Regions from separate parts of the Homo sapiens genome. Here regions 2, 3 and 4 are each linked to region 1. Evidence: fine-mapped expression QTL. A gene starts in region 1. Each other region holds a variant in brackets. All regions are shown on one strand. Distances are between the middles of the regions.

Evidence for each region.
Region 2: its variant is fine-mapped to the expression of EBF2 in lung (TOPMed, PIP 0.99).
Region 3: its variant is fine-mapped to the expression of EBF2 in lung (TOPMed, PIP above 0.99).
Region 4: its variant is fine-mapped to the expression of EBF2 in nucleus accumbens (GTEx, PIP 0.98).

What each region holds. Positions count from the first base shown.
Region 1 is chr8:26,040,511-26,048,616 of GRCh38, reverse strand. It overlaps EBF2 (EBF transcription factor 2), which reads left to right and starts at 3,204. Exons shown (of 16, transcript NM_022659.4): 1 at 3,204-3,888; 2 at 6,366-6,522; 3 at 7,615-7,678; 4 at 7,946-8,001. The coding sequence starts at 3,758. RefSeq lists an enhancer at 1-688 and a silencer at 4,990-5,284.
Region 2 is chr8:25,818,177-25,826,282 of GRCh38, reverse strand. All of the region lies in intron 1 of LOC107986933 (a long non-coding RNA gene), which reads right to left. Among named protein-coding and RNA genes, the nearest start is that of EBF2, 220 kb to the left of the region's middle. The variant G/C (reference allele first, on the strand shown) is at 4,599.
Region 3 is chr8:25,776,481-25,784,586 of GRCh38, reverse strand. The region is part of intron 1 of LOC107986933 (a long non-coding RNA gene); the gene reads right to left. Among named protein-coding and RNA genes, the nearest start is that of EBF2, 260 kb to the left of the region's middle. The variant C/T (reference allele first, on the strand shown) is at 4,055.
Region 4 is chr8:26,173,610-26,181,715 of GRCh38, reverse strand. All of the region lies in intron 2 of LOC105379336 (a long non-coding RNA gene), which reads left to right. Among named protein-coding and RNA genes, the nearest start is that of PPP2R2A, 110 kb to the left of the region's middle. RefSeq lists a silencer at 3,598-3,764. The variant C/A (reference allele first, on the strand shown) is at 3,482.

The DNA of each region.
Region 1 (8,106 bases):
GCAGTTTCTAAGTAAAATTTCCGAACCTCTGATCGGGAGGAGAGACTTGGCGCCCAGATGACTGGACCGGACGAGATTGAGCAAAGGGGCTTAAAACCAATTAAAAGGAAATCGAACATACCGCACTGGGTTGCAGACGTGAAACAGAAACATGAAAAAAACGGGGGTGAGGGTCATTTGGGAAGGGTAAATGAAGAAGGGGACAGGGTAAAAGACAGACACCCCCAGTTTTGTATAAATAGATTGTGAATAATTTTAATCATAGTGTTCATTTTGGATTTTTCTTGACCCGGGCTAGAGGCAGAACCGAGCTAGTTGGCCGGAGCCTGAGGAGCGCGTGGGCTCCGCAGTCCCGCGGGATTGGGCTTCCCGGGGCCGCAGCTGCGCTTGCCAGGCCCCCGCACAGCTCGGGGCAGGTTTTGTGTTGCACGAGATCGAAAAGGAGGTTTGTTTGGGGGTAGCTGGAGGCGACAGAGGTGGGAGCAACCCTCCAGGCGCAGCCGCCGCTGCTCATTCCCCCAACCAACGCATGTTTCGCGCGGGTGGCGGACTCCGCGAGCATTCCTACCCAAAACCTATACAGACGCAATTAACCCCAACTGGGTTGGCCGAAACGCCGCCACGCTGGGCCCAAGGCAGTCCTTGTCCCCTCACGCTCGCGCAGGCACTTCAGCCTGGCCAACAGGGAACTTCAACGCCCGCAGCGAGCCACACAGCCATCCCTGGAGCTCCCAGCAGCACTGCCGCGGGGGGCGCCCTTAGCGCAGCCGGCAAGTAGTGGGGAAGCCCCACTCTGTCAAAGTTCGGGACCACGGCTCCCCCAAATTGCCTCCCAGCGGGGCACCGAGGCCCCTGAGCGCGTCTCGGGGGGTTGGCTGGGAGGAGGGGCGCCCGCCGAGCGCGGCCCCGTCTGTTTTGGGGCGGGCAGCAGGGAGCTGGGAGAAAGGAACAATTCATTCGCTTCCTGAGGGGGCATAATTTGGGTGGCAGCTGTTACCGCCGAGAAAAGCTGGTGCCCTCGACCCTGACTTTGCCCTTTAACCCCAGCCAACCTGAGCCTGAGGGGTAAACTGTTGGGGCTTGGCCCAGGCCCACTGCTGACCAGAGGCCTCTCCGGGTGCCCTGCGCACCTTTCCGGGGCAACGTGGAGGTACAGCTGATCAAAGCCCCCTTGAAAAAAAAATCACCGGGCTCATAGGCATGTCTTGAAGGGCTCACGGCTGTTCCACACTCTCTGCCAAGGAACTCAAGGCTTTGGCCCCGCTGGGCGCAGACCCCAGACGAAGGGGGTGGGGGGGAGTTGCTTGAGGTTCGGAGAGATTTATAAAGAGAGACCGTAGAAGACTCCAGGTGATCAGTTTTTGCTGGGACCGAAATTCTCCGTAAAACCTGCATGTAACAGAGAATTGCCGAGTTGAAACAGGGCAGTGAATCTCATCCCTACAAATTTCCCTCCCTACCCCCTTCTTCCTTTGGACACTCCTGTCTTACTTGGCTTTTACTAGCCACCCGATCCATTTCCCAATCGCCCTGTATGGCTCTCCCGCCCCTTCCAGTCCAACAGGGAGGACCAAGCCAGAGCTCTGGGGTCGGGGTACCACAGTCAACACAACCCAGAGGCGGGGGGTTTACCTTCTCTACCTTCCCCCAAATCAATGACCCCAGTCCCTGGATCCCGGGGCCTGTGCAGAGACGGTCCGTGCACCCGCCCCGCAAACTCCCTAACCCCCTATCCGTTTTCAAGCGAATCTCCGCAGTTCGGACCAGCACTTCCTAGTCGCAATCCCGCGCACGCAGCGTGGTGCCGCGGTTTGTCCCTTGGGGAGGTGGAGGCGCGCACCGGTCCCTTTCTCGAGAGAGCCGAGTTTTCTTGAAGTGCAAGCTTCCTGTCAGCCTAGGCAAACCAGTTGCAAGGCGCTGTGTCCTCTAGCGGCAAACTCTAGCAGTTCATTTGCGAGCGCTCACCTACACCTAAGGGATCTGGTCTCTCAAATCTGAGACCCAAGAGGGGAGAAAGTGCCCTGAACGCAGTCCAGGCGCTCGCAAATGCCCTCCCCGTAATGAGACCGGGAGACTGGGGCGCAATCGCTCGAACTACGAACAGCTGATTGTCTCCTCCACGGCAGATGGTCTTTGAGCACAGATTTGCATTCATTGTCTTCAAATCTGTTTTCGCGCTGGTGTTCTAGATTTCAGCAGCAGCAGATCTATGCGCAGATCAGAATACAAAAGGAGAAGCAAGAAAATGACACCCAGCCAGGAGGATGTTTAATAGGCACCGCGAGCAGCCCCGCGCAGTTAAAAAACCGTCTAGGGTTTCAGCTGTTCGGTGAGGCTGCTGCCACCGCCTGCCGGCCACCAGCCCGCGGCCAGCACCGCGGCGACCGCGCGCGGTGGGCGAAGTTTCCACGACTCCCCCGTCCCTCCCCGCCCACTACCGGGGGCTTCGGGAACGGAGAGGTGGGGAGGGAACCGGAGGACCCGCGGGAATACTCCCCGGCCGCTCGCGCACTCAGCCCGCCTCGATCTGTCAGCAACCTCTCCTCCACACGGGTGCGACTGCCGCTCGCGCCCGCCCGCCCGCGGGTGTTTTCCTTAGGTCCTGGACCGTTTTCCCCAGCACTGTATTTGAGCAGCACTTGCCCCTCGCTTGTCCGCCCCACCCCATCCCCCGCCTTCTTTCATATGTTCTCCACTCTCAGCAACGTGCAAGCCGCACACAACATCTGATATCACCATGGAACTCCAGGAGACCTGGGGAGCCATTCAGGGAGCTGGGTGCTCTGGGGGACGTTTGCGCAAAACATAAGCACATGTGGCCACGCTCACAAGCATGCACACAGATCCGAACCCCGGGAACGAACGTGCCTCCCGGCAGGCTACAAAAGCCTACATCTAGAGGCAGGATCCAGGGAGGCTTCCCGCAGCCAGGCCGAACCCCTGCGTCCCCAGCCCGCAGAGACCTGCTACCCTAAGTCAGTGCAGGGTGTGGGGGCCCCCCAATCCTGCGCAAGCACACGGGGTTCGTGCTAGGACTCGACGCCCGCAGCTTTCTGTCCCCTTTCACCTCCCGGAGTCCCGGCAACGCAGAGCGTGGCGCGCGCCGCCGGAGGACGTCGGCCCGGCTTGCCAGGCGCCGGCCAATCCCGCGCGTCCATGCAAATGAGGCTCCTTATCGGGCCGCAGCTCCGCCTCCCGCAGCCAGGGCCGTAGTAACCCATTCATGGGGCCCGCGCGCGGCTGCAGCCGGGCTCCGTGGCGCTCGCAGCCACCGCCTCCTCTCGGCTCCAGGTCTTCCCCTTCTTTTTACAACTGATCCTGTTGGGGATTTTTTTTTTTTCTAAATTGGAACGGTGGGGAGGAGCAGGGAGGGGGGACCTGGAGGAAGGGGAGAGATTAGGCAGCCATCAATTTCCTCCAGTTTCTCCCAGAACAGGTGATGCTTCTAAATTGTGATCACTTTCAGGAGGCAGCACTGCAGCTGGAAGGATGCGAGCGACCTAGGGTGGAGTGGCTGAGGCGGCAGATCTGAACTTGCGGAGGATAAGAACCCAAACTTTGACTACATCAGTCCGCACCTCGCCAGTGAAGCAAAGGACGGGTTATCTTTTTTTTTTTTCTAAGACTCAAACTTGGGCACTTGATCCCTTTTCTTGGATTGCTTTGGAGGAGACGATTTGCTGGCAACGTTGGGAACAGTCAGGACTGTGTTGTAACTCTTACTTTTAAAGCGACAGTAGAGGATCAGACTTTTTAAATGTTTGGAATTCAAGATACTTTAGGAAGAGGACCAACTCTGAAAGAGAAATCGCTGGGCGCGGAGATGGATTCGGTCAGGTCCTGGGTCCGGAATGTCGGAGTGGTGGACGCTAATGTCGCCGCGCAGAGGTAACGACACGGCCGCGCAATTATTATGCTGTCTCTCGCTCTTACGGTCTGTCTCTCCGTGTGCACCCCCCCCGCGCACCCCGTGCCTTTCTCTCTCCCTGTCCCCCCATCTGTCGCCCAGGCCCTGCGCGCTGGGGCTCGCCCTCGGGCAAGCAGATCGCTGCAGTCAGGCGAACGCTCACCCGGCAGCCGGCACTCGAGTTCCTGAACTGCCTGGGTCGTAGGCGTTTCTCTCCCTCTCCTTTACCACAGTCCACTCTTTGCAAGGAAAAATAAAGTAGCCCCCAACATCTCCCAGCTCAGCCCCTAGTCCTGCAAGCCGAGCCGGCCTGGCCCCGAACGGAGCGTGAACACCGGCGCTGGCAGTGGCGGCGCGGGAGGAAAGCCGGCTTCCTGGCCACTCTTGGCTTCGCCACGCCGCCTGCGAGCGCCTACCTCCCGCATCTTGCTGGGCGATTCCTGGAGCCTGGGAGGCCGGCGGCCAGAGGGTGGCGGCGGCGAGGGGAGCGGGAAAAGCCGGAGCGGCTGCCCGGGAAGACGAGGCGGCCGGGAGCTCTGGGAGGGGGGACAGGCTGGAGGGTCCCGGCTCAAAGATAAAACAGTGAGCCAGACGAACGGAGCTAGGGAACTGGAGAAAAGAAGAGATTTAAAAGAAGAGAAAATACTGAGTCACAGTAGAAAGAGTTGCGGAAGAAGAAAGAGGCGAGAAAAGGCCACCAGCAGCTAGACTGGCTCAGGGATCGCCAGCCTCTGGTTTTGCGGATCCCTGAAGTTGACTTTGTGTTTAGGCGTCTGCGTGCTGGGATAGTAAATACCATGTCCGGGGTGCCACCCTACGAAGACATTACGGTCCCACTCTCTCATCACCACTACTGAGTTGGGATTTGTGGCCTCCAGGTCCTTGTCTGCGAGAGAGGCAGCCCTTCTACCCCCAAAGAGCCGATGAACTTCTTCCACTACCCTCGCTTCCCCTGCTGCCCTCCTGGCCACCCACATTTAAGTGCCAACATCACACGGAGAAATGATCCCTTTCCCAAACTGGCCAGGTGTCCCGGGTAGAGCGAACCGGCCTCTACCCTTGGAGCGGAGAAAGCAGAAGTTTTATCGCTCCGGGACTTGGGCCGGCGGCGGTTCCCTCCCTCCTGTGGCCCGGGGAGCGCGGATTTCCCTCCGGCAGACCGCACAGCGCGGCGGCCGCGGCTTTCCGCAGCGCTTCGGGACTGGCCCGCCTGCGAGCTAAGGGAAATAAGGCAGCACCGCAGAGCCAACTGTGCCGCGCATTTCCTTAGCTGGGCTCCTTAAAGACGCCTCCCTCGCTTTCCTTCCTTCCCGGGATCAAAAAGTTTGTTGAAGCTGGAAGGAGCAGACTTAGTGGGGGAGAGCTTAGCCAAAATGTTACCCCTTTCAAAAGAGTGAATGAAGGTGCTTGCGCACCGGGGTTCAACCTGGGAGACCCCAGCGCCGCAGGGCAGCTCCCGCAATCTGTGCGTTCACCTCAGCCCCAAGTCTTCGGTGAAATGGGATCTGATGGCCAGGTGGGCTGTGACTGCGACCGGTTGGCTGGGAAGCGTGTGCACACACTCAGCACGCTCGAGGGCGCCTTCCGGGTCCCCCAACTTGGGTTTCACAGTCACTGGGTTCGGCTGGCGCCGCCAGAAAACGCAGCATGAGTGGGGATCGCGTTGGCCCCAGGAAAGGAGGTTCTCGCCTTTTAACAGTTTGGCTTTTCCCCACCTAGCACCTCTGGGAGGGAGGGCCCCCTATGTCGGTCATCTCATTTGTGGTGGCCAGCGATCCCCGGGGCTGGTCGCGAGGATTCCGCCCTGTCTCTGTCCCAGGCACAACTTTTCGGAAGAGCGAGGCAAGCAGCCCAAGGACCCAGACCTGGACTCTGTGTTACTCTCCCGCCTGCCCCTTGGGGTTCTTACCCACTACCTTTCCCAGTCAGCATTTGGGCGTTGTGAGCAGTGGGTCCAGGACTGATAACTCGAATTAATACTAAATAAAAGGGTCGCTTCTTCCAAAGCAAAGGAGGCACTTATTCCCCTAACCCTGGGCCCCAGCTCTGCATCCTGATACACCCAGCAGTACCACCTGAGGGAGTGGATGGAGACAGCCCCACGGTATAGGACGCGGGCCACCTCCTTAGGGGACCACTCTGGGCCTCTGTCTGCAGCCGGGGTCTTTCGGTTTCGACTAAAGACGGGATGGTGAGTGGCCCAGCGGTGGGATGCCGGACCACTTGGTGGTGTCAGAGACCCCAGGTATCAACCCTGCCACCCAACCCCCGTGGCCACGGTGACTCCTTTAAGGAGTCTCCTCTTCCTTATCCGAATTGGAAAAAAGGCCCGAAGGGTTCAGAACTCTGGACCTGGGAAGTGGACCCCTTACCCCTCTGCAGTGTTGTGGGCGGTTAGTAACATCGCCTTTTTGTGCTTCCCCGTGTCTTGTGTTCCCCCGTTTTTCTCCCTGTGCAGCGGGGTCGCCCTGTCCCGGGCCCACTTTGAGAAACAGCCTCCTTCCAACTTGAGGAAATCCAACTTCTTTCACTTCGTCCTGGCGCTCTATGACAGGCAGGGCCAGCCGGTGGAGATCGAGCGGACGGCCTTCGTGGACTTTGTGGAGAATGACAAAGTAAGCGGAAAGTACCCCCCAAACCCCGCGGCCTAATAACTCCCTCTTGCGAAGCACTAAAGATTCCATCTGTCACTCTCGCGACACTTTTCCACTCTCACCATCAGGGATGATAAATCGAGGCTACTCACCCCCAGCCTCTAAATCAGTCGATTTCCCGAACCTCCTCCCACCCCGACTCCCCCAACCTGGAGCTGGAGGAGCGCTCCCGGCTCTGCGCACCGAGCCTGGAGGCCTTAGTAGCGCCTGGTTATGGACTGACGGCGGAGCAAACGCCCCTTGGACTAGTTAAAAAGTACACCCAAGGCCGCCGCTCCCCTTCTCTGGGTTAATTTTAATTATTTTGCACCTGCGAGAGCCAGGTGGCCTGAGTTGCGGCACTAAGTGGAAACCGGCAGCCCAGCCTTGGCCTGCCTTCTGGCCGTGTCTTCTCTCCTGTTCTGTTCTCCAAGGCAGCGCCTCCTCCAAACTCAAGCCTGGAATTGGGGGCTGGGTTCGGTCTCAAATGAAGGACAGTCCGCCGAAACCTATGTGTGACCAAAGGAAAATCCCTTGCCCTTTCCGGGTCTCCGTGTCCCCAGCTGTACAATGTGAGCTTTAGAGTAGGCACTTCCCAAAGTCCCTCCTGAACCTGGAACTCAGTCCCTGAGCTCGTGGCCCTGCGTGCGCAGTCCTCGCGGGATAGGCCCGAATGCTGCCTTTCCAAATGACAAGTCCCTTCACTTTTCTGCCAAGGGAAGCCTTGGGGCTTCCTAAGGACAGACAGAGCCCGATGGGTTGGGTGGTGCCTGTTTAAAGGCAGCTTTGGCAAGTGGTCCTGTTGTCGGAAGCTCAAGGGTCACACTTCTGAGGACATTTTTAAGGGAGACAGAGGGCTGGAAAGGGTCAAGTGGCTACGAGTCTTGGCAAGTTTCCGGGGGCGGCCAAGGACAGGCAGATGCTCATGCCCTTTGACCTAGGGCTGAACAGGGGGTTACTCAAAGCTGCCTTTTGATGGGGAGAAGGGATGTGAGGTGGGGATTCACTGTCTCCTCTTTCCCTCATTTTGGGGGGCTGAAAGGCAAGGGAATCGAACGCTGCCTGTCTTTTCAGGAACAAGGCAACGAGAAGACCAACAACGGCACTCACTACAAGTTACAGCTCCTCTACAGCAACGGTGAGCTCTTCTACAGCAACGGTGAGCCGGCGCCTAGCAGCCGGCTTCCGGGCCGCACGCGCTGACCTTGCCATGATCACTCTCAGGGATCGCATGGAGCCCAGGGCGGCGGGAGGCTTGCCTGGGACAGGGGATTGGGAGGTCACCGTCTCCAGGGCGGCTCAGCATGGAGAGGCTGCTTGGGCCTCAGACCCATGGCAGAGAAGGGTTTGGGGTGCCCGGAAGGGGCTCTACGGCCCTTGACTCGTGCCCCTCCGGTCCCCGCAGGTGTCCGCACGGAACAGGACCTCTATGTCAGGCTCATCGACTCGGTCACCAAGCAGGTGAGCCGGAGGCCACTTGGCTTCTCTTCGCCTGTCTCTGACCCCGACCCCCAAACCCCCCAGTTTGTTTCTGACCTGCCCCTCCTCCACGATTTCCTGGGTCAG
Region 2 (8,106 bases), 220 kb after region 1:
ACCATTCAGGACATAGGCATGGGCAAAAACTTCATGACAAAAACACCAAAAGCAACTGCAACAAAAGCCAAAATTGACAAATGGGATCTAATTAAACAAAAGAGCTTCTGCACTGCTTAAAAGGAACTATCATCAGAGTGAACAGGCAACCTACAGAATGGGAGAAAATTTTTGCAATCTACCCATCTGACAAAGGTCTAATATCCAGAATTTATAAGGGACTTAAACATATTTACAAGAAAAAAAACAATTCCATCAAAAAGTTGTCAAAGGATAGGAATACTACTAAAAAGAAGACATTTACACAGCCAACAAATATATGAAAAAAAGCTCAACATCACTGACCAGAGAAATGCAAATCAAAACCACCATGAGATACCATCTCATGCCAGTAAGAATGGTGATTATTAAAAAGTCATGAATCAATAGATGCTGGTGAGGCTGTGGAGAAATAGGAACGCTTTACACTGGTGGTGGGAATGTAAACTATTTCAACCATTGTGGAAGACAGTATGGTGATTCCTCAAGGATCTAGAACCAGAAATACCATTTGATCCAGCAATCCCATTACTGGGTATATACCCAAAGGAATATAAATCATTCTACCATAAAGACACATGCACATGTATGTTTATTGCGGCATTATTTACAATAGCAAAGACATGGAACCAACACAAATGCCCATCAATGATAGACTGGATAAAGAAAATGTGGTACATATACACCATGGAATACTATGCAGCCATTAAAAATGAGATCATGTCCTTTGCAGGGACATGGATGAAGCTGGAAGCCATCATCCTCAGTAAACTAACACAAGAACAGAAAACGAAACACCACATGTTCTCACTCATAAGTGGGAATTGAACATTGAGACTACATGGACGCAGAGAAGGGAGCAACACACACCTGGGCCTGTTGGGGGATGGGGGCGAGGGGAGGGAACTTAGAGTATGGGTCAATAGGTACAGCAAACCACCATGGCACATGTATACCTATATAACAAACCTGCACATTCTGCACATGTATCCCATTTTGTTAGAGGAAATAAAGGAAAAAAATGAGATTAGAAGAGCTGAAGAATTAGACTAGAGGTGTCTAGTTCCTTTTGTACTGATGACCTTAATGGTAAAAAAGAAACACAGAAAGATAAATCCAAAGGAAAAAGTGTTTAAGGCTTCAGGGTGATGGGACTGTTCTAAAATTAGATTGCGATGATGGTGGCACAATTTTAAATAAAAAGATTACCCTTAATAATCTGGGTGGGCCTCACCCAATCAGTTAAAGGTCTTCGGAGCAAAATCTGAGGTCTCCAAGAAAAGAAATTCTATCTCAAGACTGTAACATCTCCTCCTGCCTGAGTTTTCAGCCTGCTGGCCTGCCCTACAAATTTCAGACCCCACAATTTTGTGAGCTAATTCCTTTACAAAACTGAATATTTTCTTCCCTCTCTCTCTCTCTCTCCCCCCACACACACAAACACACAATTCATTATGTTTCTCTGGAGAGTCCTTACAAATATATATATTTAAAACAAGTGAATTTTATTGTATGTAAATTACATATCAATTTTTTAAACACTAGATACTATATGATTCTATTTATATAAAATTCTAGAAACTGCAAACTGATCTATAATGGGCTTGGGGAAACTTTTGAGGGTGAAGAATATATTCCCGATCTTGATTATGGTGATGGTTTCATGGGTGTTTACATAAGCCCAAACTTACCAACGTGTACACTTTACATAGGTGCAGATTATTATAGTTGATTCTACCTTAATAAGTGTTATCTTCAACAGACACAGAAAGACAAAGCCAAAGGGGAAACTGTCTGAGCCTCAGTACAGATGTGGCCTATGTTGCCTCCATGGTTCCTCTTCCTCCTGCCCCCACCCTGGTGTCCTTAGGCTGCCCAAAGATCGGCAGATGGAAAGGAACACCCTGCCCCCAGTGGACACAGGCCCACCCTCGAGGACTCTGGGGGCATCCTGTTCCTCCTCTACTTCAGGTGAAGATGCCGGCAAGAAACTGTTTCCTGGACACACAGTGAGCCCGTGCATCACTGGAGACAAAGTCGGAAAACAGTGAAAGTCCAGTCTTCTATCAGCAGAAAGAACACTGATAGAGACAGTGTTGTGGTGTCCTTGCTTGCGAGCACCCGGGAATCAATTTATCTTGGAACCAATATTTTGTCCTAAAGGAGTGGGACACAGAGCATCTGTCCTCTCCCTATAGCACAAGCACAGCTGGTCAGAGAACACAAGCTTCCAGTGTCAACCAACATGTAAAACTATAGGGTCAAGAGTCAACAGAAAGAGCTGTTTCCCTCTGAGAGACCGGTAAGCAGAAAGAATTTCTTAGCACAGGGATGCCAACCATGCTTCTCTAAGAACTCAGGCAGGAAGCTTCTGCTCACACAGAACCTTGAGCAAGTCTGTCCATCAGCAAAGGCTTGGGAAAAGCACCCAGGTATGTCCCAGGATAGATAAGGAGGACAACACAGACGCACAGCGGAGAAGAGGTGAGTGTACAAAAAAGCTGTGGTCCAGGTGAGCATGAAGACCAGCTTGTTATGTGCACTTGCTAAGAGTCTTGGGGAAGAGGAAGTGTGATGTCATGTCAGGAGCCACCACAAGGATTTATTCAGGGCCATGGACCAAGAGTCTGCTCCACTGAGTGGCTTCAGCCATTCTTAGCTATACTTTTCTCATCTATATAATGTTTGGGAGTATAAGACCACTCAAGATGTTTCTATAGCTACCACAGAATTATTTCAGACAAGGTTCTGGTGCCCAGAGTTAGCCAAGAAGAGAGGCTGGCCAGGTTCCCAGGGCCAACCTGGCACTCTGTGGGCAGGTCATGGTCTTGTACCCTGATTCCTTCCATCAGAGCTGGCAGCAATGTTAATGGCACTCCAAGAATTCACAAACCTGGGGATTACTGGAGCTTCCAGGTTACCTGGAGATGACGGTTTTTTTGAGGCTAAAACTACAGAAATTTATTTTCTCATAGTTCCGGTGCCTGGAAGTTCAAGATCAAGGTGTCAGTAGAGTTAGTTTCTTCTGAGGCCTCTCTCCTTGACTTGCAGACAGCCGCCGCTTCACTCTATCCTCACGTGGTCTTCCCTCGTGCCATCTCAGTCCTACCTGGGGATGATTTAAGTTCCTGGCTACAGAGGAGGGTGTTGAGTTTGTGTGTGTAAAAGAGATAGTGCCAGATGTAGGAAACAGAGAACCCTAGGACTGTGGGGCTGAGAGGTGACAGAAACACAAAATTCACCTTAAGAAAAAAAAAAAAAAAAGCTGAGATTCACATTCAAGTGACTTAGTTCATGGGCTTTTTGACCATGGAACAATGGCTTGGTTTTTCTGAGCTCATTCTATCATCTGTAAAATGGGCCTAAGGAACTAGCTCATGGCATTGCTGTAAGACTGAAATAATAATGTCACAGTGCCTGTGAACATGCTTTATTTTTTAATTTGTACAAATGTATGGGGTACAAGGGCAATTTTGTTGCGTGCATAGATTTTGTAGTGATCAAGACAGGGCTTTTGGGGTATCTATCACCAGAATAATGTACATTGTACCCACTAATCAATTTCTCATCATTCTGCCCCCTTCATCCCCTCACCCTTCTCTGTCTCCGTTATCTTATCATACCACTCTCTACAGCCATATGAATGCACTTCATAAGCGGCAAGGCCAGCACACAAGTGCGCAGATGAGTGGACGGCTCGACATTGCTTGGAGAGCCTCACTATGCATGGAAGAGGCAGGTTTATCAACACTCGGCTACAACATGGCCCCTCCTGGGGAACAGGCATGAGCCAGGGGCTGTGGGAGCTGGAAGGACAGACTCAGCCCTGCCTAGGAAGGGCTGAGAAATTAACAGTCGCAGCACTGAGTACACTACTGCTGTTCATGAAAACCATGGGCCTGTGCATTTTAATTCATAAAAAGACAATAGGATTCAGATTTTATAATTTTCTATTTTAAAAAAAGAAATCAGTAAGTGCAAGGAGCCTCCCACACTTAGCCTCTAATGCTCCTACCAAGCCCGTAATCGGCTGTTGCTATCCACATTTTACCAGCAACTGAGGCTGAGACAAATTAGGGTTGTCGGCAGAAGTCCCAGAGCCGGGTGGTGACACAGCCAGAATCTAGCCCTGCCACCAATGCTCTTGTTTCCCACTGTAATTTTAAAATAACATAAGCAAGATGTTATAGTTTTTGAATTTAAACATCTTTTAAAATAAGATTATTGTTTTTCTGTGCTAGATTCAAACTGAGCTTTGGAAATGAAGAATTGAGAGAACTTGGAAAGGTTTGGGAAGGACATGGCCAAAATGAGCAACAGCTTGGGGGAGAAAAAAGACACCTTTTCCTGCTGGAGGAAAAATGGAAGAAATTATTCACTGGATGGCACGTTCCAACGAGGCCAGGGGCTGCATCTTCCATCCTCCCTCAGTGGCCTCCTCCTCTTTCTTTCTGCTCCCCAGCTGGGAACACAGTGTATTCTTCTCAGTCTGTTGCTCATTTTAGTCTGAAAAGGAAAAAGCCAAGGGAGTGGAACCAATGACAACCTCCAAGAATCCT[G/C]CATGAGGAATCAGAGGAAAGTGGAGATGAAAAGAGGTTTCACGCTCCACAATATCAGAACAAGAAGAAAAATTCTAGAATGCACTTGAAAAATAACTGTCTTTGTCTGAAACAGGTGTGAGACACTTGAACATGCTACCAAAAATGCGAAGCCTCTTTCTTTGGAGACCTCAAAAAGAAGGCTCAGGCTCCAACATTTTGAAAGGGTAGATTGCACCCCTATAGTCCCGGGGCGACATCTCAATGTAACTGAAAAGCCAGTGACGCCTGTGACTTTGCTGATGTCAAAAGGCTAATTCCAACATGACTTCACGAGCTAAAACGGCTTCTCCATCCATGGCAAGTTTTGCGAGCACCCCGAGGATTCCAGCGACGTGGTTAAGCCGCCGGGAAGACCACGAAGAGCTTTTCCAATATCATCCGAGGCTTTGTGGGAGAGCGAATGTCGAGCCCGTAATAGATGCTTTCTGATCCTCCTCACACTGCATCTGGCTCTCCTAAGTATTGGTCCTATTACGTTTTTAAAAATAGCTCAGAAGTAATTTGAGTGCTGAACTGGCTACAGGATAAAAAAACCCCACCTGAATACATTCTAACTTCTTCCTATCAGCCAGAGACCAAGAACCACAGTCGCAGTTTCCTCGGAGCTAATTTTCAGCATTAGGGTTTATCAGAACCTAAATTCTGTTCTAATAAACGATGGAACAGCAGCCACTCTTTCAGCCACTTATTTGGGCAACCAGGGAATTGGCAGACGAGTTAAAAATTTTCATTGGTGACAACACACAGCTGTTGAGGTGCAAAGATCTGAGACTCTAATCAGACCAGGTTATATACGTAGCACTGTCTCATTATCTCTGCTTGTGGGATAGGGTTCACAGGCAGCTGGGGCTGTACGGGGGTGTCAACAGAATAGCTAATGGCAAGTTGACACACAGAGATATCAACTTGCAAGAGACAAAGTGGGTAACCCTATGCCCCCATCCAACCTTGAAGAAGAACACAGAGTAGGAGTAGCCCCTGCCTACAACTCTCCTTGCGTAAGGCAATAGCCATAATAAACGTGACCCCTTTTTTGGATTTATGAAAAATGGTTAAAAATGACACACCCAGGGCCTCCTGTTGGCCTCCATTTCAATGTCCTCTCAGGAACTTCATATTCTTCCCAACATTTTGAGAAAAGTTGTGATGTTGTCAATAAAGCAAGAAACGCACAGAGTGAGAATTATCTTGAGTGCCCAGCGCAGAACAGGAAGTCAAGAAGTGGGAGCTATTCACACTATGACTACACTGCAGTGAGCAGTGTCATTTTAAATTCTCATTTGCAAAGGAGATGACGGTTATCTTAGAACTAATACAAGTAACAACAAGAATTGACCAAACTAAGGAATGATAAGCAATTTACAAAGTATTTTTACATCCATTATCTGCTTAACCTTTAAATACAGCTGCGTATGATGGGAGTAGTGGTGGGGCTTATTATTCAGACTTTAAAGATGAGCGTTACTGGGGGCTCTATAGAGTAAACAAACTAATATGCTTGTTCTTGCCCAAGTTCAGAACCTACCACAGGGTAGAACAGGAGTCAGGCAAATGAAGAGGAAAATGCTGACTTTATTACTAATACACGTTATTGGGGAGCATGGCTGAGGTATGCCATGAGCCTGTTAACATTCCCTACCCAACCCACTCCCCACAGGCACACACGACACACACTAGTGTAGACCCTGGGGTGGCCGTCCAAGTGAAAGTTTGGGACCACAGCAGATGCATTAACTAAAACTAGAAGACAGGAGGGATGAGAGCAAATCCCTCATGCTGACAGTCTTTTGATGGATGAACTCTACCCAACAGATCACATATGCCAAAGGCTACAACTCCCTCCTTCTCATGGGGATGTGAGGGATAGGGGCCAGGGCGCCAGGAGTGTTACTCATGAAGGCATACGGAAAGGATAAAAAGTGATTTCTCTTAAAGCATCCCAGTTCTTTGTTCTCCTAGCCAACTGGGTTTAACCATTAAGCTTATGGTCACCCAAGGTTGTGGCTATTTTCTCTGGGGGAGCTCTCTGTCCTAACAGTGCCACTCCCATCTTTCTGAGGCCAGTCCCCTCACACTAGCCACAGTTCCTTTGGAGAATCCTTCTGGGATTGAAGGTGGACAGTTGAGAAATGACTCTCAGAAGACTCTGGATGGATCCAAAGAGCATATTAATTTAACTAACGTAAGGGCAAATTCACTTCCTAGTCTTTTTCTCACTCCCTGCCGCCAAAATGTTCAGCTACATTGTCTAATATAATGTTTTTTGGAGGTTCTGCAATGTAATTAAATAACAATATAAAATACTCAATAATTGAATTCCGGCAACACAGAGGAGACCAAATTTGAATACAAACTCCCTTTCATCTGGAAATTCCAAGTGAGATCTTGAAGTCCAAAAATCAAATCTTCTTCTAAGGAAAGTCCAAAGTTTAGGTTCCAAAGAATTAAAGCCCAAAGTTAAATTTCCTTAATGTACAATTAAAATTCCAAAGAACGTCAAGTCCAACACAAATTTTTATTTTTTTTCCCATGACTTGATATGCAAAAAAGTGTTCAAAATTTCATTTCATTTCCAATTTTTTTTTTTTTTTGAGATGCAGTCTCACTCTGTTGGCTGAAGTGCGATGGCGTGATCTTGGCTCACTACAACCTCTGCCTCCCGAGTTCAAGCAATTCTTGTGCCTCAGCCTCCTGAGTAGCTGGGATTACAGGTGCCCGCCACCACGCCTGGGTAATTTTTGTATTTTTAATAGACAGGGTTTCACCATGTTGGCCAGGCAGGTCTTAAACTCCTGACCCCAAGTGATCCATCCACCTAGGCCTCCAAAAGTGCTGGGATTACAGGTGTGAGCCACCATGCCCAGCCCAATTTCCAGTTCTGATGAGTCTCTACCAGAGGGCCTGGGTCTGATGTCTGTAGCAGCCCCAGCCTGGGCTGCCTTCTGTGGGAATGGGTGTGGCTCCTTCATGACCTCTCATGAGCCACATTTTTTAAAGAGTTCAAAGAGTTAATAGGACACATCAGATTATTATAGCCTCAGTCTCATATTCCACATAATTCAGAACCACAAGTAATCCCCAGCCATCAGAACAGGTTTTTGAGCAGACTGTTTTTTCAGAATCCAGTAATGAGTATTGTCAGAGGGCCTGCAATATTTGAAGGAAGGAGAAAGATCTATGGGGTAAGCCACAATTTGGGTCCTGATATCTAAAATTTCGGTCAGTGCTGACATATTTAACAAACTGAGAACCAAATTTGGGATGAATTCTTGAATGTGCCAACAAGCCATGTGAATCCAACCACATTTTTCACCCTTCCAGACAAGATGCAAAGCAACAGGAAGGGGAACAGCACCAGGATACCTGAGCCCACCCTGCCAGCCCAAGGCAGGCATGACACCTCTACGCTCTGTAGATCATGCGCTGTCTATGCCATTTACACTCTTGGCATGCAGTCCTGGCTAAG
Region 3 (8,106 bases), 260 kb after region 1:
AGAAAATGTTGCCCTGTTCCCAGGCCCAGCAGGTGGAAGACAACCATGATCCTCTTTAGGCAGGTGCTAGGTTTGGACAGTTCCTCCTGGTTTTTTAGCAGCTTGCTACATAGTGGTGATGGAGGAGGAGGAAGGAGGTGGGAGGTAGAGGTGGCAGCAGAGCCATTTAAATGAGCAGCGTTGGGCCAACTCTTGATTCTTCCTGGGGGCACCTGCCACGTGGAGACTGAGCTGCTCACCTTGCTCATCTCTCCACCACCCCAGTCCCAGTACAGTCTGTCTCCAACCCTGCCTTTCCTTCTACTATTCTCATTCTCCTTTCCATAACAGGACTTTTTTTTTTTTGGTTCCACTTCCCAGGCCATATTTTCATGATACATAATTTCCCTTGGGTTCATAGGTTGGAATTTGACCTCTGGTTTCATAGGGCTCTGGTTCCTGGCAAGTAAGAGAATGCTGCTTGTGAGAGCAACTTAGTGAGAACTAGCGGCTGCCATGGTCAACGTTTCCCAGCCCCCCTACTGATCTGCATGTTAGCTCCATACACACTCAGTTTTGTTCATTTTCAGAAGTGAGAAACTGACTACAGCCGACTTCTATAGGATTCTTAAGCAAATGGAGAGTAACATGAGAGGAATGGTATAGGTTTTAGAGTCTGATAGGCTGGGCTCCCTGTTCTGTTTTAACCACCAATAGGGTGTATGTCGTTGGGAAAAGCACTACCTCTCAGGGTCTTGATTTCCTCATCTGTAAAATGGGAATCATAACAGTCCTTTCAGGAGCTCTTAAAGAAAGAGCTTTCATGTGAAGAAAGAGTGATGGATATAAGATACTGGACTTGCTAATGTTTTTGCAATGCAATCTTTTGTTTTTTGCCTGTGGGTCCTCCCACATACCACTCATTGCCTACAGCATTCTTCAGCTTGCTCCTATTATACGTGATACTTTAGATAGCGTGGTTGGAGGAAACATCTTTGAGGATGTCATATTTGTGTCAAAACCTTACAGAGAGCCAGGCAAGGGAAAGCTTTACCAAATAGAACAGTGCTTATGTGCAGTTACTATGGCTTTAGTCTTCCAGTCTCCATTCATTTCCAAAGTTACTTAGGTCAGTACCTCCCCAACCCCAACCCTATCACTTCCTTCAGTGAGGTTATCATATACATTTATAACACATTAAGTTCTTTTGTTGTAGCCTATATTCCATCCTGGGATCCCCTGACCTCCTAAGTGATTTTTTAAAAGTTGTATATAAGAAGTTCACTGTTTGCAAAGTTCTATGGATTTTAACAAATGCAAGATGTCATGAATTCACCATGACAGCATCACATAGGTGAGTTTCACTGTCCTAAAGAATCCCCCATGCTTCACCTATTCAACTCTTTCCCTTCCCCAAGCCCTGGCAATCACTGATCTGTTTACCATTGCTATAGTTTTGTCTTCACTACAATCTCTTATAAACAGAATCATACAGTAGTCATCCTTTTCATACTGGCTTCCTTCACTTAGCAGCATGTGATTCTGTAACTGTTTTTAACAGTTCATTATTGAGGGCTAACTAGATGTCAGCTTATGCTCTAGGCAGCTTGACTGTAAATCCGCATTTTCCTGGTGTAGTCTGTGCTTACACCTATTATCCTTGCATCTCACTCATCATGGTATTTTAGCACAAACAAAAGTGTCCCAATTTGGAAAATAAATTATATTGTCATCCTAGTTCTAGGTTATGAGACTATATCCACGAACAAGATGAAGTCTCAGCCATTAGGGAACTTACATTCTAATGGATAGAGATAGAGAGTAAAGAAACAAACGAGAAAGTTCCATGTACTAGTATAAAGGGAAAAAAGAAAATATTAACTGAACTAAATAATCCAGGAGATACTTTAGATAGTGTGGTCGGAGGAAAAGTCTTTGAGGATGTCATGTTTATGTCAAAACCTTGCAGAGAGACAGGCAAGGAATCTCCCAGGCAGAGGGAAAAGAAAATACCAAATATCTAAGGCACAGAAACTTGCCATGTTTTCGAAGAGAAAGAACTAAAGGGAGAATAGAATAAGGTGAGTTTGCTGCAACAAGCCAGGTTAAGAAAATCTAGACCTTTTCTAAATTCACTGGGAAATCACTGAGGGTCTTTAGCTAGGGAATAACATGACACGATTCATATTCTAAAAAGATTAGTTGGCCATGCAAAGAAGACACTGGAGTGAGGCATGCATAAAAGCAGAGAGACCAATGGGAATCAATTGCTGTGGTCCAGACAAGAGGTGATGGTGGCTTAAACTTTCATAGTGGTGATGGGAATGGAGAGACATGGTAGAGTCAACATGTATATTGTAGGTGATCTGATGGATTGGATGTTGGGGTTAAAGAAACAGTGATAAGAGATTTCTAGATTTTTGGCTTAGCAACTGTCTGGTAGGATCATTTACTGAGGTTCAGTGCTGGGGGGAATTGGGAAGGAACCATTGGATGGGTGACAATTCCTGGTTTGTTTCAGACATGTTAAGTTTGAAACGTTTGTTACACATCCATGTGGTGATATCAAACAGGAAATCAGTCCTATGAGTTAGTTTGCAATTTGGAAGAGGGTTTAGAGCTGAAAATTAACTAAGAATCCTCATTATGCATTATTTAAAGCTATGGGACTGGTTAAGGTTTCATAAGGAGAGAGTATTGATAGAAAATAAGACTCAGGAATAAGCCCTGGGAACTCTAATATTTATCGGTCAAAAAGTCAAGGAGCAGCCAGAAAAACAGGAGGAAAAATAGGAGTTGGTTTCATCAAAACTAAGAGGGAAAAGTGTCTTAAGAAAGATGGGCAGTCAACTCTCATGAATGTTGCCAAAAAGTCAAGTACAGTGAGGTCTATTAGGTTTGGCAACATGGAGATCATGAGCATCCTTGACCAGGGCAGCTTTAGTGCAGCCATGGAGATGGAAGACAGATGAAACGTGTTGAAGGTGAACTTGAAGAGGAAGCACAAATGGCTCACAGTTTGTTTAACTGTGATAAATTCCGTGATAGTGTAGACCATCTAGCTTTTAGTTTTTGCTGTAACTCCAGCAATTACTTGCCATTTAAATACCTCCACACTCTCATGAATATTTCCAATGCCTATTGTGTAACCTATTTATAACCAGGACATAAGCTAAAAGCTGCACTGAAACAAAGATAACTATTAGAAAGACCTACGAAGATTGCCTGTTTTAGTCAGGCCACTTTTATGTTTCACTTTTTACAATTATCACCTAGGTGAAAGGAAATTGGCAGTCCCCCAAAATTTCTTCATCTTCTTTATGATCACTAGTGCTTCATTTATGGAAGTTTAGAGAATCATGGGTGTTCCTATTATATTACACTGAAGCATTCCCTGTTTAAGAGGGAAGCTGGCCTTTTAAAACAATAAATTTAGAGCAGTAATTCTGATTTAAAATCCCAAATCATATTAGCAAAACCAAGAAGGAGGAGAGAAGGGGGAATTTACATGTTAAATTACTCATCTAAAGTGGGAGGAGGCAAGGGATAATGTTTTACACTTGATATTAACAATTAAGAAACTACAGAATAAAATGTATTTTTGGGTTGACTTCTGGGCCTCCTAAAAGTTATTGCCAAATGCTTCAGCAAAATAAAGCAGACAGAGCCTTAAGATCCGGAAAGGAATCAAACCACCAGCCAGCCAAAGCTATACCATGCCCAGTTTCACTGCAGAGCCTGAGTCCTAGACCACCAATAAAAAGCATGGTTCTGTGGGGCCTACGGACAGTCATTTCAAAACCATTAACTGGAGAGTAAATTAAATTAAAATAAGGAAAGAGTGAAAGAAAAATATCCACCCATTTAAAATGAGCCTAAAAATATAAGTTCCAAATAAAGCAAGAAATAGGAAAAAAGCCAACAAAATTAACGATCAAAATATGAGTTCACTACAGATAGAAATAAAATAAGAAAACAATCTGAAATAGGCCTCAAAATAAATATGTTTAGGATCTACAAAGAGATAAATGAAGGAATCATATCTACAAATAACAATAAAATTATGAAATAGAAA[C/T]GTAAAAAGAACAAGTGAGTATTTTTTAAAATTACAACCATTAAGTTGAAAAATATAGTTGATCTAATAAACTCAACAGGATAATAGGACAATAACTTGACTGGGATTAATTAAAGAGAGAATTGGGGAATTTGAAGAAAATACAAAAATGTTTTCTCTATAGTGTACACAGAGAAATAGAGATTTTTTTTTAAAGAAGAGCTGTTAAAAGACGAGTAATATATTGAGAATTTCTAATATCCATTAAGTAGGAGTTCTGGAAAAAGAGAATAAAGGTAAAAATGGAAAGGCAATATTAAAAAAAAAAAAAGCTAAGAATTGCCCAGTATTGAAGAAAGTCCTTTTAAGTATGCATCAATATTGAACGAAATTAAAAAAAAAAAACAGTGAAACTAGAAAGCACAAAATAATTAAAATAAAAATGTCAAAAGTAGACCTTTGGAAGTCTTAAGCCAGAGTAATTAGGCAAAAGAAAAAACTAAAGGGCATCCAAATTGGAACAGAAGAAGTCAAATTGTCCCTATTTGCAGATGACACGATCTTACACATAGAAAACCCTAAGAGTGCCATCAAACTTTTAGAACTGATTTTTAAAAATCAGTAAAGCTGCAGGATACAAAATCAACACATAAAAATCTATAGCGTTTTTTATAGACTATCAATAAACTAGCTGAAAAAGAAGTCAAGAAAGTAACCACAGTTGTAATAGCAACAAAAATAAAATAAAATAAAATACCTAAAAATAAATGTAATCATGGAGGTAAAAGATCTCATCAATGAAAACTATAAAACACTGATGAAATAAAGAGGACAAAAAAAATGAAAAGACCTTCCATGTTCATGAACTGGTAGAATGATATTGTGAAAATGAGCATACTACCAAAAGCAATCTGCATATTCAATGCAATCGCTATCAAAAGATCAACGACATTCTTCACAGGAATAGAAAAACAATCCTAAAATTCATACGGAACCACAAAAGACCTCAAATAGCTAAAGCAATCCTGAGCAAAGAGAACAAAACTGGAGGCATCACACTGTCTGACTGAAAATATACTACAAAATTATAGTAACCCAAACAGCATAGTACTGGCATAAAAACAGTCATGTAGACCAATGGACCAGAATAGAGGACCCAGAAATAAATCCACACAGTTACAGCCTACTGATTTTTGACAAAGATCTTAAGAACATTTACTGGGGAAAAGACAGTCTATTCAATGAATGGTGATGGGGAAACTGCTTATCTGATATGGTTTGGCTGTGTCCCCACCTATGTCTCATCTTGAACTGTAGTTCCCATCATTCCCAAAGGTTGTGGGAGGGACCTAATGGGAGGTAACTGAATCATGGGGGCGGTTACTTCATGCCATTCTCATGATACTGAGTGAGTTCTCATGAGATCTGATGGCTTTATAAGGGGCTTTGCCCCTTTGCTCTGTACTTCTCCTTGCTGTCACCATGTGATGAAGGATGTCTTTGCTTTACCTTCCACCATGACTGTAAGTTTCCTGACGCCTAACCAGCCATGCTGAACTGAGAGTCAATTAAACCTCTTTCATTTATAAATTATCCTGTCTTGGATGTGTCTTTATTAGCAGCATGAGAACAGACTAATACAATATCCATACACGGAAGAATGAAACTAAACCCTATCTCTCGCTATATATAAAAAAAAGTAAAATGAATTAGACTTAAATATAAGATCCCAAACTATGAAACTGTTAGAAGAAATCATAGCAGAAATGCTTCAGGACATTGGAACAGGCAAAGATTTTATGGATAGGCCTGCAAAAGCACCTGCAACAAAAGCAAAAATAGACAAATGGGATTATATCAAACTAAAAGGCTCCTCCATGGCAAATGAAGCAATCAACAGAGTGAAGAGACAACCTAAAGAATGGGAGAAAATATGTGCAAACCATTCATCCAACAAGGAATTAGTATCCAGAATATACAGGGAACTTAACAGCAAAAAATAATCATAATAATCTGATTTTAAAATGGGCAAATGAACTAAATACACATCTCTCAGAAAAAAAAAATATACAACTGGCCAACCAGTACATGAAAAAATGCTCAACATCACTAATCATCAGGGAAATGCAAATCAAAACCACAAGATATCATTTCACCCATTAGAAAGGCTATTATCAAAAAGACAAAAAAAGGCTAGCAAAGATATGGAGAAAGGGGAATTCTTATACACTGTTAATAGGGATGCAAATTAGTACAGGCATGGTGGAAAGCAGTATTGTGGTCCCTCAAAAAACTAAAAATAGAACTACCTTATGATCTAGCTATACCCAAGGAAGGGAAATCAGTATGTTGAAGAGATTATCCACACCTCCATGTTTATTGCAGCACTATATGCAATAACCAAGATATGGAACCAAACTAAGTGCCCATTAAGAAATAAATGGATAAAGAAAATGTGGCCTATATACACAATGGAATACTATTCAGCCATAAAGAGAATGAAATCCTGGTATTTACAGCAACATGGATGAGCTTGGAGAACATTATGTTCAGTGAAATAAGCCAGGGACAGAAAAATAAATACTGCTTGTTCTTACCCTTATGTGGAAGCTAAAACAGCTGATCTCATAGAAGCACAAAGTAGAAATATGGTTACTAGAGGGAAGGAGAAAATAGGGAGAAGTTGGTTAATGGATGCACAACTACAGCTAGATAGGAGGTACAAGTTCTAGTGTTCTGCAGCACTGTAGGGTGACTATAAACAACAACTTATTGTATATTTTCAGATAGCTAGATGATTTTGAATATTCCCAAAGAAGTGAAAAATGTTTGAGATGATGGATATGCTAATTACTCTGATTTGATCACTACACATTGTATACATGTATCAAGATGTACCCCATAAATATGCACAATTATGTGTCAATTAAAAATAATAAAAGAAAAAAGTTAAAAATAAAAGAGGAAGAGCTGATGATCAAAACTTGTCCCTCAAACGGCAAATCCCTAAGCTGGGATTTACCAACATAGACTGAAAATAAAAATGAGGCTTGTCTTAATCCATTCGGGTTGCTACAACAAAATACCATAAACTGGGTAGCTTATAAACAACAGAAGTTTATTTCTTCCAGTTCTTCAGGCTGGGAAACCTGGTGAGATCCTGATTTCTGGTTCATAGATGGAGCCCTCTTGCTGGGTCCTCCACGGTGGAAAAGGCTCACTAGCTCTCTGGGGCCTCTTTTACAAGAGCACCAATCTGAATCATGCTGTCTCTGTTCTCATTAATCGCCTTTCAAAGGCCCCACCTCCTAATACCATCACCATGTGGGTTAGGCTTTCAGCATATTAATCTGGGGGCGACACAAACACTTAGATCATATATCTGATAGCCTGCACGTATGGACAGACACAGAAAAAGGTTCAATTTTTTTCTGTAGGGTATTTAAATGATGCCTATTTTGTGAATGACATGCAATGTGAAACTGTAGGAAATAAAATGGAAGTAGAGGACATAGGCCCCATCCTTAAAGTGTTTACAGTCTAGTTGGGGGAGAAAGACATTCATCCAATGAACAGCTAGAGACACAAACACCTATCTGATCACAGAGAACTACCTGACTGCATTCAACAGGTATATCATCTTTACCTTTCCAAAACACTTACATAAATAATCTTTTCTCACGACAGTTCTGTCAAGTGAGAAGACTAGATAATGTCCTCATTTCTTAAGTGGGGAAAGTTGGATGGCTGGTCTATGTTATTCAGCAGGTTAATGAAGAGTCATAGTTGCAACCAGCTATTCTGAGTCCTAGATGCATTGAGGTAAAACATCAACCCAGAGACCCCAGAGGATGAATCTTCCAGCAGCTTCTCTTCTGTTCCTTAGCAAGGGCTCCCCAGAACTCATTTTTAAAACAATATGGATTTTTGCTTCTGGTTATGCTTAAGTAGTTTGCAGCAGACCACTCTCTAGCCCAAAACAACTGGAAAAGCTAAATAAAACAAAGCAAGATAAAAGAATTAGTTTCAAGGCATTGGAGAGCTGACAAAACAACCAAAACTGGGGAGAGGAG
Region 4 (8,106 bases), 130 kb before region 1:
TATGTGAATTTTGAGGTCGACAAACATTCAGACCATAGCAGAGGGTTGCAAGGGACAGTTCCTCAGTAGTAGGAATGTCTAAGACAGCATTAAGAACTGAAGAGATTAGTCCCAGCTACTTGGGAGGTTTAGGTGGGAAGATCGCTTGAGCTCAGAGTTGGAGGCTGCAGTGAGCTACGATCGGACTCCTGCACTCCAGCTTGGGTGACAGAGAGAGACCCTGCCTCAAAACAATAGAAAAGAACTGAAGAGATTAATGTTCAATTTTAGACTATTTGTGGCATCCCATAAAACACTGAGCCCACCACACTTCATGTTCCTCTGGCGTGTCCTTCACACAGCCGTGAGTTGGTGGTACCTTGAGGACTGATGGCCTGGAGGCAGTGATGAGTTGGATGAGATGGTGCAGAAGAGGACAGCACAGAGAAGGCAACATGCAAAGCAGAGCTCCTGCTTCTAAGCCCTGTAAGCCGCAAGTGACTAGGAGAAACTTCAGGCCGCCTCATCACCTCCCATTCCCACTCCAAGAATCCCTGCAGATGTTGGGATGGGCACTTGGTTTTACAATATATGCCTTAGTCAGTCAGGCTGTTATAACAAAATACCATAAACTGGGCACCTTATAAACAACAGAAATTTATTTCTCACAGTTTTGGAGGCTGGAAGTCTAAGATCAAGGTGCCAGCAGGGCCTCCTTTCTGATCTTCCTGGGTCCCCTTCTGTGTCCTCACCTGGTGGAAGGGCCAAGGCAGCTCTCTGGGGCCTCTTTTATAAGGCCACTAATCTCATTAATGAAGGCTCTGTCCTAATGACCTAGTCACTGCTCCAAGGCCTCCTCTCCTAACACCATCACATTGATGACTAGTTTTCAATATACGAATTTGGAGGGGACACAAACACCCAGAACATGATATTCTATCCTAGGCTCCCCAAAATTCATGTCCTTTTTGCATACAAAATGCATTCATTCCACCGCAATTACTCCCAAAGTCTTAACTTGTTCCAGCTTCAACTTTAAAGTCTAAGACCAAAGACTCATCTAAATATCATCTGAATCAAATATGGTGAGACTCAAGGTATGGTTCAGTCTGAGGTAAATTGCCCTATAGTTGTGAACCTGTGAAATCAAGCAAGTTATGTGTTTCTAAAATACAGTGGTGGGACTGGCATATGGTGGACATTCCTATTCCAAAAGGGGAAAATAGGAAAGAAGAAAAAGGTAAGAGTTCCCAAGTAAGTCCAAAACCCAACAGGGCAAACAACATTAAATCTTAAGCCTCAAGAATAATCTTCTTGGCCAGGTGCGGTGGCTCAGACCTGTAATTCCAGCACTTTTGAAGGCTGAGGTGGGAAGATTGCTTGAGGCCAGGAGCTCAAGACCAGCCTGGGCAACATAGTGAGACCTCTTTTCTACAAAAAATTAAAAAAAAAATTCTGGGTGTGGTGGTGCATGCCTGTAATGCTGGCTACTCAGAAGGATGAGATGAGAGGATCACTTGGGCCCTGGTGATTGAGGCTGCAGTGAGCAGTATTTGTGCCACTGTACTCCAGCCTGGACAACAAAGTCAGACCCTGTCAAAAAGAAATAATAATAATTTTCTTCTTTGACTTGATGTCCTGCTTTCTAAACACACTGTCATGGGAGTTGGGTCCCAGGTGGCCCCACCCTTATGGCTTTGCTAGGTGCATCCCATACCACAGCTTACTTGGGTTGGAGTTGCTTGTCTGTGGCTCTCCCATACTGGAATTGCAAGCACGTGAGTCTATCAGTCTAGAGTCATGAGGGCAGCTTTGCTCCCATGGCTCCACTGGGCATTGCCCTGCCCTCATAGTGGCCCTCTACCTGAGTCATACATCCAAGAGACTCTATTCTTTAAAATCTAAGTGGAGGTAGCCCTTCCCCCATGGCTCATGCATGCCAACTGCTGGCAAAGATGGCACCACACAGGTGCCACCCAGGGTGACTTTTCTGTGCCCTCCAGAGAGGTAACCACCACAGCCCGTACTGCAACTGGGCTTACTGGAGCCATTCCTAGGGTGGCTGAGCAGCACTGTGCCTGCATGCAGGGAGCAGAGCCTTGAAATTGTTCTGCCCCATCCTAAGCTCTTATACTCTGGGCTTCTGATAAAAGGGTCAACCCCAATGAACTCCAATGCCTTCAGGGTCAATTATTCCATTGCCTTGTTAAATAACACTTGGCCTCTGTTGAGATGGCAGATCCATATTAGTCTCCTTATTGGTTGCTTGGCCACACTCTTGTTCTTTCTCATTTCCTTCAATATGGATAGGCTGAGAATTTTCCAAATTTTAAAGTTCTGCTTTCCTTTTGATTAAAAATGTCATCTTTAAATCATTTGTCTCTTCTTGCATTTTATTATAGTCATTCAAAAGAAACCAAGACAAACCTTCAACATGTTGCTTAGAAATTTCTTCAGCTAAATATACTATTTTATTGCTTGCAAGTTCTACCTTCCACAAAACACTATGATGTGAACACAATTCAGCCAAGTTCTTTGCCACTTTATAACAGAGGTAGGCTTTTGTCCATTGTCCAAGAACATATTGTTCATTTCCATTTGAGACCTCATCAGAATGGTCCTTACTGTCCATATTTCTACCAACATTCTGATCATAACCACTTGAATATTCTCTGAGAAGTTTGGGGCTTTCTCTACAGTTCTCCTTTTTTCTTTTTAGGCCCTCAACAGAATTACCCTTTAAGTCCATTCATTGCACAGTAGGCTTTTTCTAATATGCAACTCAAAACTCTCCCAGCCTCTCCTCATTACCCAGGTCCAGAGCCACTTTCACATTTTAAGGTATTTGTTACAGCAGCACCCCCACTTCTCAGTGCTAATTTTCTGTCTTAGTCCATTCAGGCAACAATCGCAAAATACTGTAGACTGGGTGGCTTATAAAAAACAGAAATTTGTTTCTCAGAGTTCTGGAAGCTGGGAAGTACATGATCAAGGAATTGGCAGCTTGAGTGTCTAGTGGAATCCTGCTTTCTAATTCATAGATGATGTCTTCTTGCTGTGTCCTCACATGGATGAAGCGGCAAGGCAGATCTCTGCCTTCATGATCCAATCACCTCCCAAAGGCCCCATCTCCTGATACCATCACATTAGCAGTTAGGTTTCAACATATGAATTTGGGGGGAACAAAAGCATTCAGGCCATATATAGTACCATATCTAGGATGAGTGTTTGAGCTGATTTAAAAAATTGTATTATGAAGCGCAAGAAAACTCTAGCAAGGTAGAAGACTTGGAAATATTGAGGGGCTGATATATATCTGGGCTATTGTGGTAACCAGCTTCGAAAGAGGCCCTCAATGATGCTTGCCCCTTGGCATTCAAACACCTGTGCAGTCTTCTCCCACACCAAATAGAGCTGACCTGTATAATTAATAGGATATTACAGAAATAATGGTGTCTGACTTCCTTTTTTTTTGAAACAGAGTCTCACTCTTTCACCGAAG[C/A]TGGAATGCAGTGACGTGATCTCGGCTCACTGCAACCTCCGCCTCCTGGGTTCAAGTAATTCTCCTGCCTCAGCCTCCCAAGCAGCTGGGATTACAGGCACACACCACCACTCCCAGCTAATTTTTGTATTTTTAGTAGAGACGGGGTTTCACCAGGTTTGCCAGGCTGGTCTTGAACTCGTGACCTCAGGCGATCCATCCCCCACAAAGTGTTGGGATTACAGGCATGAGCCACCATGCCTGGCCAATGGTGTGTGACTTCTGAGGCTAGGAAATAATAACACATTGTGACTTCCACCTTGCTACCTCTTGGATGGCTCCTTCTGGGGAAGCCAGCTGCCATGTTGTGAGGACACTCAAGCAGTCCTCTGGAGAGGGCCATGTGACAAGGAACTGAGATCTACCAATAGCAAGTGCAAACACCAATTTGCCAATGATGAAACTTGAAATCATATCCTCTAGCCCCTGTCAAACCTTCACTGACTACATCCCTGGTTGTCAACTTGACTGTGATCTCAAGTAACAACATCACACAGATTTTCATGAGCCGTGAGCCAGAAACACCCACCTGATGTGCTCCTGTGTCTTTGACCCACAGAAACCATGAGAAATGGTACACAGTGTGACAATGTTTATTGGTATTCTAAGCCATTAAGTTTTGGGGTAATCTGTTACTGATCTATAGCCAGATAATATATTACGCTCTCAGTCAAAATTCTTTGTGGATAATTATCTCAACTCTCTGGGCTACCCCCACTCCCACATACACTTTGTGTGTTGTGCTCAGAGAGTAGTGTGTTCCCTTTTCTTCCAGAGCCTCTAAGTACTATTTCAAGAACACTTTTCTTTTCTTTCTTTTTTTTTTTTGTTTGAGATGGAGTCTCACTCTTTCACCAGGCTGGAGTGCAGTGGCACAATCTCGGCTCACCACAACCTCTGCCTCCTGGTTCAAGTGACTCTCCTGCCTCAGCCTCCTGAGTAGCTGGGACTACAGGCGTGTGCCACCACACCCAGCTAATTTTTGTATTTTTAGTAGAGATGGGGTTTCACTATGTTGGCCAGGTTGGTCTCGAACTCCCTACTTCGTGATCTACCCACCTCAGCCTCCCAAAGTGCTGGGATTACAGGTGTGAGCCACTGCGCCCGGCCCTTCAAAAACACTTTTCAAAGGTTGCTGTGCACTGAAGCAACCTAAACACTTAATTCCAGATCCCTGAGTCCTATGTATTTCTAATGTAGACCAATCACAGAAAAAACGAAAACATTTCCTTGCAAACATGAGATATTTGTTCAATTCCCATCCATTAAAAAGCAACTTTTGAGTTTGTTTTATCACAAATTTTAAAAATCTTAGAAATATGACATTCCAATATGTTTACAACAGATATTATTTTGAAATTTTTTAATTTTTTCTTGATGGAAACTTTAATGAGAAAGAGTCAGCTTTTTTATGGTTAACTATAATTTATTGTACATTTTCTTCTTTAACTTTTATTTTAAGTTCAGAGTACATGTGCTGGTTTGTTATATAGGTAAACTTGTGTCATGGGGGTTTATTGTACAGATTATCAGGTATTAAGCCTAGTACTCATTATTTTTCTTAATCCTCTCCCTCCTCGAATCCTTCACCCTCTCATAGGCCCAACTGTCTGTTTGTCCCCTCTATGTGTCCATGTGTTCTCATCATTTAGCTCCCACTTATAAGTGAGAACATGCGGTACGTGGTTTTCTGCTCCTGCATTAGTTTGCTAAGGATAATGGCCTCCAGCTCCATCCATGTTCCTGCAAAACACATGAACTTGCTTTTTTATGGCTGAATAGTGGTGCATCCATGGTGTATACATGCCAAAATACATCCATGGTGTATATGTACCACATTTTCTTTATCCAATCTACTGTTGATGGGCATTTAGATTGATTCCATGTCTTTGCTATTGTGCTGCAGTGAACGTACGCATGTATGTGTCTTTATGATAGAACTATTTATATTCCTTTGGGTATACACCCAGTAATGGGATTGCTGGGTCAAATGGTATTTCTGTTTTTAGGTCTTTGAGGAATTGTCACACTATATTGTCCACAATATATTGTCCACTATATTGTCCACAATAGTTGAACTAAATTACTCTCCCACCAACAATGTGTTGCTCTTTAGTTTAATTAGATCCCGTTTGTCAATTTTTGCTTTTGTTGCATTTGCTTTTGGCATTTTCATCATGAAATCTTTGCGTGTTCCTATGTCCAGAATGGTATTGCCTCGCTTATCTCCCAGGGTTTTTATAGTTTTGGGTTTTATATTTCAATCTTTAATCCATCTTGAGTTAATTTTTGTATACGGTATAAAGAAGGGGTCCAGCTTCAATCTTCTGCATATGGCTAGAGAGTTATCCCAGCACCATTTATTGAATAGGGAGTTCTTTCCCCATTGCTTGTTTTTGTCAGCTTTGTTGAAGATCAGAGAGTATAAAAGAATTTTAAAGACGCTGTTAGATGCAATGTAAAATGCAAACTTTGTGCATCACAACTTTAACTTGTGAGTGATTATCATGCCCAGTTGTCAATACATCACTGATTGATATTTAGAGTAGTTGTACCAGAAGTAGATTCAACCAATAAAAATGTTCAAGTTGGTCATGCACACATTAGTGTCTACCCCAGCAATTGGTAAGTAAGCTGTAGTGGTAGTAGATGATGGCTATCAATGATGGAACAATAGAAAAAAATTAATTATCCATGGCCAGTAACTGCTAATAAAGTAATACAGTCACACATATTTCCAAAATGTCTATGAATAGGAAGGAGAATAATAAAGGCAGGAAATAGAAATCAAGTTGTGCCAAAGGACCTAAGCGGGTAATTTTAGAGAAACAGAAGTTGTCACATGTATGGCTTGTACCCAAGATCATGTTATCTCTGTTTAATGCAGCTTCAAATGCTAAGGCTGGACAGTGGCGATAAATCCAGGGGTAGAACACTCTGTTGGAGGAAGAGTGGGCAAGACAGGATTGTATTATCAGAGGGATAAAAAGCATCAGTAGTCCAACAGGTCTGAGCTGGCATTAATATGTCCAAACTCCAGCCGAGAATTAGCTTTAGAGACATCTAAGAAAACTTCTACTGGGAAGCTGTGATTCAGAGCAGGAAATCCAGTCCCTGGGGTGGAATTTCCAGCTGATTTTGCTGGGACTTCACAAGTTTTGCATCCACCTCCTGAACCCTAGAAAAGGCCTCTTCTCCTCAGGAGGCTCCATAGCCGTCTCCAAGGGAGACCCCCAAAGGCCCGCATAGAAGGCTGGATGTCTCTGGCCTTCCCTTGGGGCCCAATACACCTCAAGTCATGGCTGCTCTTTGGACCCTGAAAACCCACTTCCTGAGGGTCAGCAGTCTTTCTACCCAAGCAACGGAAGCTCCCCTCCACCTGGGACTTCCTTCCTGCCAGCTGTGGGCAGTCTAGCCCCTCAGCTCCCTTAGGGTGCATGGTTATTTTCAAACTCCCAGGGGTAGTCTTGATCTTTCAGATGTACAGCCCCCTTTGTTAGCAGCTTAGAACAAATTCCCAAGAGCTGGGAAGGAGGCTTCTTGGGGAAGTACTCTCTGCTCAGCACCAGTGACCCTCCTCTCCTGATCAAATCCCATAAGGAGGATGCAGATCCTTCTGCTGTTAAGGTGAGCTCTCTTTACCCTCTTTTTGGAGGACTTGGAGCTTACATTTTCCTCCTCTCCTTTGTACAAGAATCTTAATTTCTGTGTCCAGGATGTGACTCCTGACCTGTAACTCCTTTTTCAGTTTTTCTCAAAGGATACTTATGAAGGGGGACATCCCAGAATTTTGAGTGAGAATAAAGGTTAGACTAACTCATGTTGCCAAACTAGACTTATCTTAAAGGAAAGAGTCCTCTTTTATTTTTTTTTCCTTCCTTGGGCTTCTTTCCAAAGCATTGTTTATAGTTGTGTCTTAAAAAAAAGAAAAAGGAAATTACAGACTTTAAGTCTGACCCTTGCAAAAGGTCTAAATCTGTGATGGGAACTGGGTTTACAAGACAGAACAGGTCCATGCAAAGAGTTTGTAGTTTAACATGACCCACAAACAAGTACATGGGCACAGCTCTGAAGGAGGCATTTCTCTCCTTGGAAAGCATCCTGGGGTTCCCAGGATCAAGTTCAAGGTCACTGCAGTGTCACAGCTCTGAAGGAGGCATTTCTCTCCTTAGAAAGCATCCTGGGGTTCCCAGGATCAAGTTCAAGGTCACTGCAGTGTCACAGCTCTGAAGGAGGCATTTCTCTCCTTAGAAAACATCCTGGGTTCCCAGGATCAAGTTCAAGGTCACTGTGCAGTGCACAGGGCTCTTCAAGATCTGGCTCCCCCAACCCTGCAAACTCACCTTCTCCATCAACAAGTAAGTTGTGTCTAGGCTCTCTCATGACTTTGGTTATGCTACTTCTTTGCCTTGAGTGTCCTTTTCCTCTGGCTATACCCATTCAACTTTCTGCAGACAGATTAAATGACACTGCCTTTGTAAGACTTTCCTAGATCCTCCCAGAAAGAGTTAGTAACAACTCTGTTCTGGTCCCGCCGCATGCTATCTGTAGCTCATGTGGTTGTGCTGTAATTATTCATTTAAATG